2 separate regions of the Homo sapiens genome follow, and region 1 is linked to region 2. The links come from fine-mapping of genetic effects on gene expression. A gene starts in region 2. The other region holds a variant in brackets. All regions are shown on one strand. Distances are from middle to middle. Region 1 overlaps ZNF732 (zinc finger protein 732). Region 2 holds the start of SLC49A3 (solute carrier family 49 member 3).

Region 1 (5,377 bases), 410 kb before region 2:
CCTATATGTTAGTTATTGAAAAACAATAGACAATCGCAAACACAATTTGACCTTTTTGTGTTCCTTGAGTCCAGTCACAAAGGGCCCTTGTGACTGGGCCTCATGCCAAACAACTCATTACAAAAAGAGCTAGGGTCCCAGACCATGCCGAAGCTACATGAGACCTCTCTTCGTCTGTGCACGGAAGGGTGGCGGACTCTGGAGCCCAGGCTGTTGCTTCCCAGTCTAGTGGTGAATCCTCCACAGGCTGGTGAGTGTAGTGTCTGACTCTGGAGCCCAGGCTATTGCTTCCTAGTCTGGTGGTGAATCCTCCATAGTCTGGTAAATGTAAATATATATATCTCCTTTTCCTTCTCCCCTTCCCATTGCAATTTGCTTATTGTATCATTTGCTTATATATCTGCATTGCCATTTACATGGGATAAAGGTTGTTTACCCTTAAAGATATTGTGTGTGTGTCTTTTCTTCTCCCCTCACGCGTTTCCCGCACAGGACAATCTTACAAAAACAAAGCCTGAGAACATTATGTTAAGTAAACTGAGATAGTGAAAAAAAAAACAGACATGGGGGCCGGGTGCAGTGGCTCATGCCTATAATTCCAGCACTTTGGGAGGCCGAGGCGGGCAGATCACGAGGTCAGAAGATCAAGACCATCCTGGCTAACACGGTGAAACCTTGTCTCTACTAAAAATACAAAAACAAAAAAAATTAGCTGGGCGTGGTGGTGGGCGCTTGTAGTCCCAGCTACTCTGGAGGCTGAGGCAGGAGAATGGCGTGAACCCGGGAGGCAGAGCTTGCAGTGAGCCAATATCACGCCACTGCACTCCAGCGTGGGTGACAGAGCGAGACTCCGTCTCAAAAAAAAAAAACAACAACCAGACATTATATTATATAATTACACCAATAAGAATATAAAAATCAGTCAAAATTATAGAAATAGTAAGTAAAATGGTGTTCTTCAGGACCTGAAGAGAAAAAAATGGCAGTTTATTGTTTATGAGGTATGAACTTTACTTTGATAAAATTAATCTAGAGATCCATTTCAAAATAATGTAAATGTACTTAACTCCACTAGGCTGTACACTTGAAAACCTTTAAGCAATGTTAGGTTTTTCATCACAACTAAATATTTACATCTACCTAAAAAGGTTACATTTTTCAAAAATCACCTTCAAATAAAAAGTGTTTCTCTCACAGAATAACATATACTCAAACAATAAATAGGTGGTAATTTTTTACTGTTTCTTTGACTACTCACCTATAAAAGAAAACAGTGATGACCACCAGAAAGAAAAATTTATAAACCAGGTAGGGGCATTATTTACACAGGCAAACACCACATAGATAACTTTTATAGGCTATAGAAATGTCTGAATTACACATATATTTTAAATTGCTCCAAGTGAAACCCAATGATTTTTATTTGAATTAAACACCACATGGTCATAAAAGGTACAGAGTTGAAAATTACCATACAAATATGAAGATTAAAAACAAAAAATAATTGAGGAGAACCTACATGAAAAAAGACTCCCCAGTAAAATAGAGTTTGAAAACAATAAAAAATTCTGACCTATAAAATATAGAATATAGATGTAGATGTATCATAAAAACAATCCTTCAAACAACTACAGTTTTCAACTGTGACTATGTACTTATGAAGATCCAGCATTTTGAATCTTTGACATGCAATGTACAGCAGTAAGAAAAAAAAAAAAAACGGCCAGCTGCAGTGGCTCACACCTGTAATCCCAGCACTTTGGAAGGCTGAGGCAGGTGGATCTCAAGGTCAGGAGTTCGAGACCAGCCTGACCATCTCTACTAAAAATACAAAACAAAAAAATTAGCCGGGTGTGGTGGCTGGCGCATGCCTGTAATCCCACCTACTCGGGAGGCTGAGGCAGGAGAATTGCTTGAATCCGAGAGGCAGAGGTTGCAGTGAGCTGAGATGGTACCATTGCACTCCAGCCTGGGCAACAAGAGCAAAAAATTCTGCCAAAAAAAAGCAGCAGTTATGTCCTGAAAAAGGAAATTTATGGGAGCTTTGGAATCCATGTCAAGGGTTGTGAACCCAAGACTGAGGAGGGCTGTATTGAAAAGGCATGCCCTTGCTTGAGTGGCATGCTTGCCCATCACAGTCCCAGCTACAGAATAAAATGTGTCCAATTTTCATTGTAGACTTAGCTGCAGACCATTTGGTTTTGTTCCTGCTACTAGCACCATCTGCAAAGACACCTAGGAGAATTTCTAATGTTCTATGCCTCAGGTGAAAGGCCTTTAGAAGTTGGTTCTATCTGTGATCTCTGAATTAGCCCCAAATCCACTCTTTACACATGTCAGTCATGGTGTGGAAGGAATCCTGCCCAGACACCCACAGAGAGAAACATCCATCTGTGCCCGAATGTAGGCTTGCCAATAATTATTTGACAGTGGATCTTGACGTGGCACTATAAGCTGGCTCCAAGTCCATGCAACCAAGTCCAGAAGAAGTTTTTCCTAACCTGGGACCTGCCAAAAAGCACACCTGTATGTGCCCCTGTAGGCATGCTGGCTGACTTTATTCCCACTGTGAATTGTAAAGCAGTCCTATAACCAAGCTCTGGTCTCTGTCATCTAGAGTCTGGAAGAAGTCCTACCCACCTAGAAATCCACAGGGAGAAATACCGTTAACCCAGAAAAAGACCTGAACACTTTGGTCTCAGCTGTGTATCCTGAAGCAGCCGCATGAATCAGTTTCATACCCTCTCAGCTGTGATCAAGGGTCATTACTGCTCATCTAGGAACCTGTCCAATGACTAGGTTAGAGCATTTCCAAACACCTCGCAAGAGCGACACAGCAGGAGCCACACCTGCTCACATTGATTGTATCAGCACCTTAATCTGCATATATAACTGGAGGCTTTTTTCCTCAGTGCCAGTCATATTGATCAACATCTTGAAGAAAGTTCAGTCTTCTCAGAAAATAGAATCCACAACTGTCTGATGCCCTGATGACAGGTCTGCCAAGCAGGAATTTCACTGCAAACCCAGTAGTAGCTAC[G/A]TGACCCGGATTCCAAAGCACTTTATTGCAACCTCAGTGGAAATCTCATCAGCCCAGAAATCCAATGGGAGAAGATATTTACCTCCTCAAACTAGTCTATAATGACTGAAAGAGGTATTTACTCCTTCAGATGCAAGGACATCAAAACAAAGCCTCATGAATTATGAAGGATCAGGCAAACATAACAGCATGAAAGGAAACTAAAAATGCTCCAGGAAGCACTAACAATAAAACACAGATCTAAAAAATGGCTAACAGAGAATTTAAAATAATTATCTTTAAAAATCTCGATAAGATGCAAAAGTACACATATTACTAAATTTTTTGCAACAATGCATGAAGAAAACCAATGATAATAAAGAAAGATAAGCCATTAACAAAGAACCAAGGCGATATGCTGGAGCTGAAGTACACAATAGTAGAACTAAAATATTTAACAGAAAGCTTTAACAGGAGACTCAGTTATACAGAAGGGGAAAAATCAACAAACTTAAAAGTCATTTGAAAGTTCGTAAATAGACTTTTTTTAAAAAAGTGAATAAAGCATATAGCTTCAATAATTTGTTAATGGTATATAATATAAAAAGATGTAAAGTGTGACATAAATAGTGTGTTGAAAGGAGTAAAACTGTTTAATATTTTTATACATAGAAGTTCACTTTTGCTTGAGGCCAGGAGTTCAAAACCAGCCTGGTCAATATAGCAGGACCCTGTCTCTAAAATAAATACATAAATAAAATAAAATAAAGATTTCAGAAAGCTATTTATTCTTTTTTTAAAAAGAAGCAGTTGGGCCTGATAATGCATGCCTATAAACCTAGCACTCTGGGAGGCCAAGGCAGGTAGATTTCTTGAGCCCAGAAGTTCATGACCAGCCTGAGCAACATGGCAAAACCCTGTCTCTACAAAAAATACCAAAAAAATTAGCTGGACATGGTGGCATGTGCTTGTAATCCCAGCTACTTGGGAGGCTGATATGGGAAAAGTGTTTGATATTGGAGAGTTCAAGGCTGCACTGAGCTGTGAACCCACCACTGCACTACATCCTGGGAAACAAAGTAAGATCCTATGTGGGTAAAAAAGAAGTTAGATTGTTACCTTAAGCTAGACTTTTTAAACTATGAGATATTTTATGGTCCCTTGGAAATTACAAAAAAAAAAATGTTGAAGATACATACACACAAAAGAAATTAAAGCATATAACAAGAAAAATGAAACAAACTCAACACCATACAAGGGAAGGCAGCATGAAAGAAAAAACAGAAATTACTAAATGGTTAGAAAACAATGAACAAAATGATAGTAATAAGTTCTTATCAATCAGTAATTCCTTTAAATATAAAAAAAATTTAGTTAGCCAATAAAATCACATTGCTATGGTTTGAGTGCCCCCTCCAAAATTCATGTTAAAATGTAACTGCCATTGTGAGAAAATTAATAAGTGAGGCCTTTAAGAAGTTATAAGGTCATGAGAGGATCAGTATCATTATTCCACGAGTGGGTTAGTCATCATGAGTGGGTCTATCATAAAAGTGAGCTCGTGTTGTGATGTGGAAATATGATTGTCATCAGATGGGAATGACATGCTCTTGGACTTCTTGGCATCCCAGATTGTGAGCTAAGGAAACTTCTATTCTTTATAAATTACCAACTGTAGGATATTGTTATTGATGCAAAAAATAAACTAAAACACTCGCGAAATGTCTGAATAGATTTAAAAAATCAACAACATGCTGCACACAAGCGACTTACTTTAGATTTAAGGAAATACATAGGTTAGTGGTTCAAGGATGAAAAAAAAATTCCATGCCAGTAATAACTAAAAGAGTATAGAAGTGGCTATATTTACATCAGACAAAATAGACTTCTAAAAAAAATCTGCCACAAAAAAAAAAACTTCATGATATAGTGATAAGAGGCTAATCTGTCAAAAGAATATAACAATTAAAAATATATATATACCCAATATTGGAGCACATAAATATATAAACATATATTAAAAGAAATGGAGAAACAGAAAAACATAATACTGGGGGACTATATTGCCCTACTTAATACATCATTCAGACTGAAAGTTAGTAAGAAAACAATTGCTTGCATAGCACTATAAAACAACTGCACCAAAAGACATATATATAGAACATTTCATCCAAAAGAATAATTTATATTCTTCTCAAACACACATGGAATATTCTCTAGCATACATCATAAATCTGGCCCACAACAAAGACAAACAAGTCTTTTCATTTTTTAAAAGACTGAAATCATATCAACTTGTTTGTGTTTTTTTTAGTTTTTTTGAGAAGGAGTCTTGCTCTGTCGCCCAGGCTGTAGTGC
Region 2 (5,377 bases):
TGACGGGGTCTCAGCTAGAACCTCTGGGACTGCAGGCCAGCCCCACCCAAGGCCAGCCTGACCTTCCCTCCTGCAGGGCCCAGGTGTTTGGGCAGAATGTTGCCAGAGCGGGCACCATTCCCCAGCCACAGGCATTATCAAGTACTAGAGCTCTTCACCCCACGGACGTCCAGCACACAGCACAAGTGCACGCTGCGGCCGAGGGGAAGGCCTCCTAGGAGAGGTGAGACTGGCTCATCCCTGAGGGAGGCCAAAGTGGAGCGGGTCACCGGGGCTCACTCCGGGAGGCAGGAGGCCGTGTCACTCAAGGTCAACTTCCATGAGTCGACTGAGCTCCAGGCCACACCCTCGGACACAGCAGCCAGACCCAGGCTCCGCCCGGACAAGGTCTGACTCAGCCCACGGGACAGGACAGGGAGCTTGGGCAACAGCCGCCCTGTCTTCCTTTTTCTGCAGGACGGGGCCAGGCACAGAACGAGCTCCCCAGGCCCAGCTGGTGCCTGCCTGGCCGAGCCCGGGAGAGAAAGCCCACCCTGCGGAGCCGAGCCCGCCGCTCCAGCCTCAGCCCTGTCCTGGTTCCTCGGGGGCCTGAGTGGGGCCCACAGCTGACTCACTGAGAAGAGATGCGTCTGAAGCGTGCGGGGCAACGTGGGAGGACGATCTGTCTGACTCCCTTCCTCATCTCCCAGCCTCGACCCTGCCTGCGCTCGCCCCCTTGGGTCCTTTGAGTCTCATCCAGAGCACTGGGCTGCCTTCCGGGGTGGGTGTTGACCCAAGCTCTGCTCCGCCTGGCCCTCATGCTGCTGGTTGGAACCCGGGATCCCTGGTCACTGGCTGCAGATGAGTAACCTCCAGCCTCAAGGGCACTTGGCTGGAGTGAACATGGTGCTTACGGCTCACTGTGGTGACCCAGGCAGAGACCATGACGACTCTTGGTGTCAGGGTGAGATTTCTGTGTGCTCCATGATGACTCGTGGATATTAATAAAACAGTGAAGAACTGCAGCAGGAGGCCCTTGACTGTCCAAGGAACGCCCCACACCTACGACACCCACTGACTCTTGGACCATGAAACCAGCCCTGCACCCTCAGACACTCCACCCAAAGCCAGTTATGGCTTCCCCAGTGCCTGGACATGGTGGGCCAGGACGCCAAGCCACAGCAGTGAGTTACGGCTCGTGCCAGCATTGTGGGCAGCAGGCAGCCCCTGGGCCCATCCAGCAGATCCCGGGCCTGTCTCGGCCAGAGGCTGGCCCTCCATACCCAGCCAGCAAAGGAGGAGGGGAGAGGCCCCGGGGTCCACCTGGAAGAGCCCTGACCCAGGCCTGAGAGTGACTCCTGCCCCTGCCCCCGAGCTTCCTGACCATCCCCGTGACCTGGCGCCTCCCTGAGCTGTGGGTCCTGCTGCCAACTCTAGCTGTTCATTGCACGTTGGCCAGATACTGCCTGACCAGTTCCTGAGGCTCCGGGGGATGGCTGATGAGGGCACACAGGGCGGGAAAGGCTGCAGCGTGCAACACCTGAAGGGGGTGGGGGCAGGACGGAACCCAGCCCAGCCCAGGAGCCGCCCCTCACTCAGAGTCAGGTGGAGGGGAGGGCGGCTCCAAGCGCGCCTCTGCTGTGTGCCTGCTGTCCTGGGGCTGGGAGGCGTGGAAGGAGAGAGGGCCAACGCAGGGCCACCTGTATGTGACTGGCTGGGGAAGAGGGACCCAGGCTGGAGCCACTGAAGGCTGGGAAGGGCTGGGACTCCGTGACTGGCAGATCCCCCGGGGCACCCAGCCCTGCTCTGTGCCCTGGGCCCAGCCACCTCCAGGACAGACAGTGCCCCCAGTGCCCGCAATCCCTAGCCACCTCCAGAAGGCACCCCCCGCCCCCAGCCAGCACCTGGCACCTCGGGCTGTGGCCACAGGAAAACAAAACCCGGCTGGTCCGAGGGACTGAGGGTCCCGGAGCCACCTGTCCCCGCCCCTGCCCCTACCGTGGCGTTGGAGCAGTTGAGCAGGCTGATCGCGAGCAGGAACACCCAGCGGCGCGCGTAGGTGCGGTGGCCCCGCTGCGCGCACAGGGCCCGGGGCTCGGCCAACCCCGTCTCGGCCTCCGTCGGCCCCGCCATCGTCGGCGGCCTCCACGGGTCTCCGCCGGTCCCGCCGGCCGCCCGGGCTTAAGGACCTTCCCGCGTGGGCCGGGACCGCCTGCGGGCGGAGGTGGGGCCGGGCCGGGCCGGGCCACGGGGGGCCAGTTCCGCCCCAAGGACTACGGAGGAGGGTCCCGCCCCGTCCCAGTTAAAGGAGACCCAAAAAAGCGGGGGAAGGGCGGGCAAAGGTGAAGTTGGACCCTCCTCCTTCGGCCTCAGGCTGGAAGTCCCTGCCACAAAAACCGAATGTCCCTTCCGGGAAGGGCCCCGGTCACAGCCTGTGTGCTTCTCAGCAGGAAAGGCGGCCTGGAAGTCACTCTGCCCAGCAGAAGCTCTGCACTTCCTGAAGGGGGCTGTGGACCCCAAGTTCCTGAGGTTCAAGCCAGCCACAGGGAGGGGCCAGAGGCCAGCCTGGAAGAAGAGGCTGGGCTGGCTTTGCGCAGAGCCTCAAATCAGACCAGTCCCTCTACAGCCCCTGCGGGAAGCAGGCATGGGGTAGGAGGGCGAGGGGCTGCAGGCCAAGGCTGGAGGGAAGGCCAGAAAGGCCTGTGGGCCCCACCCTGGGGTAGGCAGTCCGCCACACACGCACCGGATTGTTACCTGCATTTTACAATGGAGGACACGGCTCTCAGAGGAGTAGGCACAGGTTTCTGTTTGTTTAGGATGGAGAGGCCTGTGTGTTGGAAGGCAGAGGAGGGAGTTTCGGCTTAGTCTTTTCTGCAAGAACCTGCTGATCCCACAACTGTGCCTGGCCCACCCTGGGGGAACCCAAGAGGCTCCAGGCCCTGTTGCTGAGGCCAGTATAGGGGTGGGGTGGAGGCTGGCCTGGTCAGACGTGCAAACAGGATTTCCCCCAAACAGGGAGGCTCTCTTGACCCTTGAAACCATCCCCGTTTCCTGAACAGTATTATTCGTGGTTTTTGTCTTAAACATTCATCTCCTTTGCCAGGGCCTGTCCATTTTCCACACCTGAGTCTGAACAGGCTAATGATGAGGCCCCAGCTTTCACTGTGCAGTCTTCTGCAGGGATTGTGTGTGTGTCTCAGATAGAGCTCTCCACTTTGGGATTTTTTTTTTTTTGTAGAGTCTCATCCAGTAACAAAGAGAAAATGGAGCTCACCCGGGGTGTCCTGAGATGGGTGGGCCCCAAGGGGGTTCCATTCTCTGAGACGTGTGATGGAGCCCTGTGGTCCTCACTCTCTTTATCTCCTCTGCCTTCCCCACCGTCTAGCCTCCCCCCTCATCTTTGTTCCCCATTCCCCCACCAGTTCCTTCTGTTCTCCTTCTCCTCACCTCTTGCTCGCCCTGCCCTGAGGACCCAGCCCCCTCACAACCTTCCTCCATAGTCCAGTGCCAATGTTGGCCTAGGGCCTTCAACATCCCCTAACCCCACCTGGCAGAGGGGGAGTTGCAGTGCAGGCTTCCCTGTTGAGGGACCTCACTATTGTGGAGCACTGCCTCTGACAGGTGGTGTCTGAGCCTGTCACCATGAAATGGGGCAGCCACAGTAGCTACCTCCATCGTTCAGTCTCTGTTGAGCGTGCATTGTCGAGGGGTGTCACCATGAAACGGGGCAGCCACTGTAGCTACCTCCATTGTTCAGTCTCTGTTGAGCGTGCATTGTTGAGGGGCTCCTCCTCCCTACATGTCGGAACTCTTGGGTTGAGCAGGTGAGCTCAGCAACATTGCAGAATGCAAGATCAGCACACAACAATCGCTTGCATTGATGTATACCAACAAGAAACATGAAAACCAAAGTTAAAGACATTCATAATTACTCCAAGGAAAATTAAATACTTTGGTATAAACTTAGCAAACCATCTACAGAACTTGCATGCTAAAAATTACAAACCATGGGCCGGGTGCGGTGGCTCACGCCTGTAATCCCAGCACTTTGGGAGGCCAAGGCAGGTGGATCACAAGGTCAGGAGTTCAAGACCAGCCTGGCCAACATGGTGAAACCCAGTCTCTAGTAAAAATACAAAAATTAGCCAGGTGTGGTGACATGCACCTGTAGTCCCAGCTATTTGGGAGGCTGAGGTAAGAGAATCTCGAACCCGGGAAGCAGAGGTTGCAGTGAGCTGAGATCATGCCACTGCACTCCAGCCTGGGCAACAGAGTGAGACTCTGTCTCAAAAAAAAAAAAAAAAAATTACAAACCATGGCTGGGCGAGGTAGCTCACATCTATAATCCCAGCACTTTGGGAGGCCGAGGTGGGTGGATTACCTGAGGTCGGGAGTTCAAGACCAGCCTGGCCAATATGGTGAAACCGTCTTCACTAAAAATGCAACAGATTAGCTGGGCATGGTGGTGCATGCCTGTAATCCCAGCTACTCAGGAGGCTATATAAGGTGGGAATTGATTAAACCCGGGAGGCAGAGGTTGCAGTGAGCTAAGATCGTGCCACTGCACTCCAACCTGGGCAACAGAGGGAGACTCTGTCACAAAAAAAAAACAAAAATAAAACAAGGAAAAAAAAACAAGCTGTGCCCCAACCACCTTGAGCACGTGCCATCAGGACTGCCTGAGGCTATGTCACAGGTGTGTCCTTAACCTTGGCAAAATAAACTTTCTAAATGGGCTGGGCACGGTGGCTCACGCCTGTAATCCCAGCACTTTGGGAGGCCAAGGCAGGCAGATCACTTGAGGTCAGGAGTTTGAGACCAGCCTGGCCAAAATGATGAAACCCTGTCTCTACTAAAAATACAAAAATTAGCCGGGCGTGGCGGCGGGCACCTGTAGTCCCAGCTACTCGGGAGGCTGAGGCAGGAGAATGGTGTGAACCCAGGAGGCAGAGCTTGCAGTGAGCCGAGATTGCGTCACTGCACTCCAGCCTGGGCAACAGAGCGAGACTCCGTCTCAAAAAAAAAAAAAATTTAATTTTTTAAAAAATCGCATAGTATAAGTCCACTTATTTGGAAACAATGACTTTTTCCACTCTTGCATCTAATGAAACAGTTTTGTTTACATTTCTCCACAAGCACCTTCGGCACACTCACCTAAGCTGCCCGAGTTTTGGATCCGGGTACAGCACCATCCTGGGATCCTCACCCCAAGCCCAGAATTGCCTGTGTACGTTTACATGGTGACCTCCAGACAAAGGCACCCAGCGTCTTGCTTTCCAAAAGGATCTCTGGTCAGGTTTGGTAGCTCACGCCTGTCATCCCAGCACTTTGAGAGGCCAAGGCGGGCAAATTACCTGAGGTCAGGAGTTCGAGACCATCCTGGCCAACATGGTGAAAC

What was found.
Region 1: its variant is fine-mapped to the expression of SLC49A3 in cerebellum (GTEx, PIP above 0.99).

Annotation. Positions count from the first base shown.
Region 1 is chr4:278,589-283,965 of GRCh38, forward strand. The region is part of intron 3 of ZNF732 (zinc finger protein 732); the gene reads right to left. Among named protein-coding and RNA genes, the nearest start is that of ZNF732, 24 kb to the right of the region's middle. The variant G/A (reference allele first, on the strand shown) is at 3,041.
Region 2 is chr4:687,016-692,392 of GRCh38, forward strand. SLC49A3 (solute carrier family 49 member 3) reads right to left here and starts at 2,136. Exons shown (of 10, transcript NM_032219.4): 1 at 1,978-2,136. The coding sequence starts at 2,112. LOC124900643 (a long non-coding RNA gene) reads left to right here. Exons shown (of 2, transcript XR_007057985.1): 1 at 1-223; 2 at 457-1,004. RefSeq lists enhancers at 1-502, 1,451-2,399, 2,400-3,347, 3,123-3,172 and silencers at 1,923-2,092, 2,123-2,182.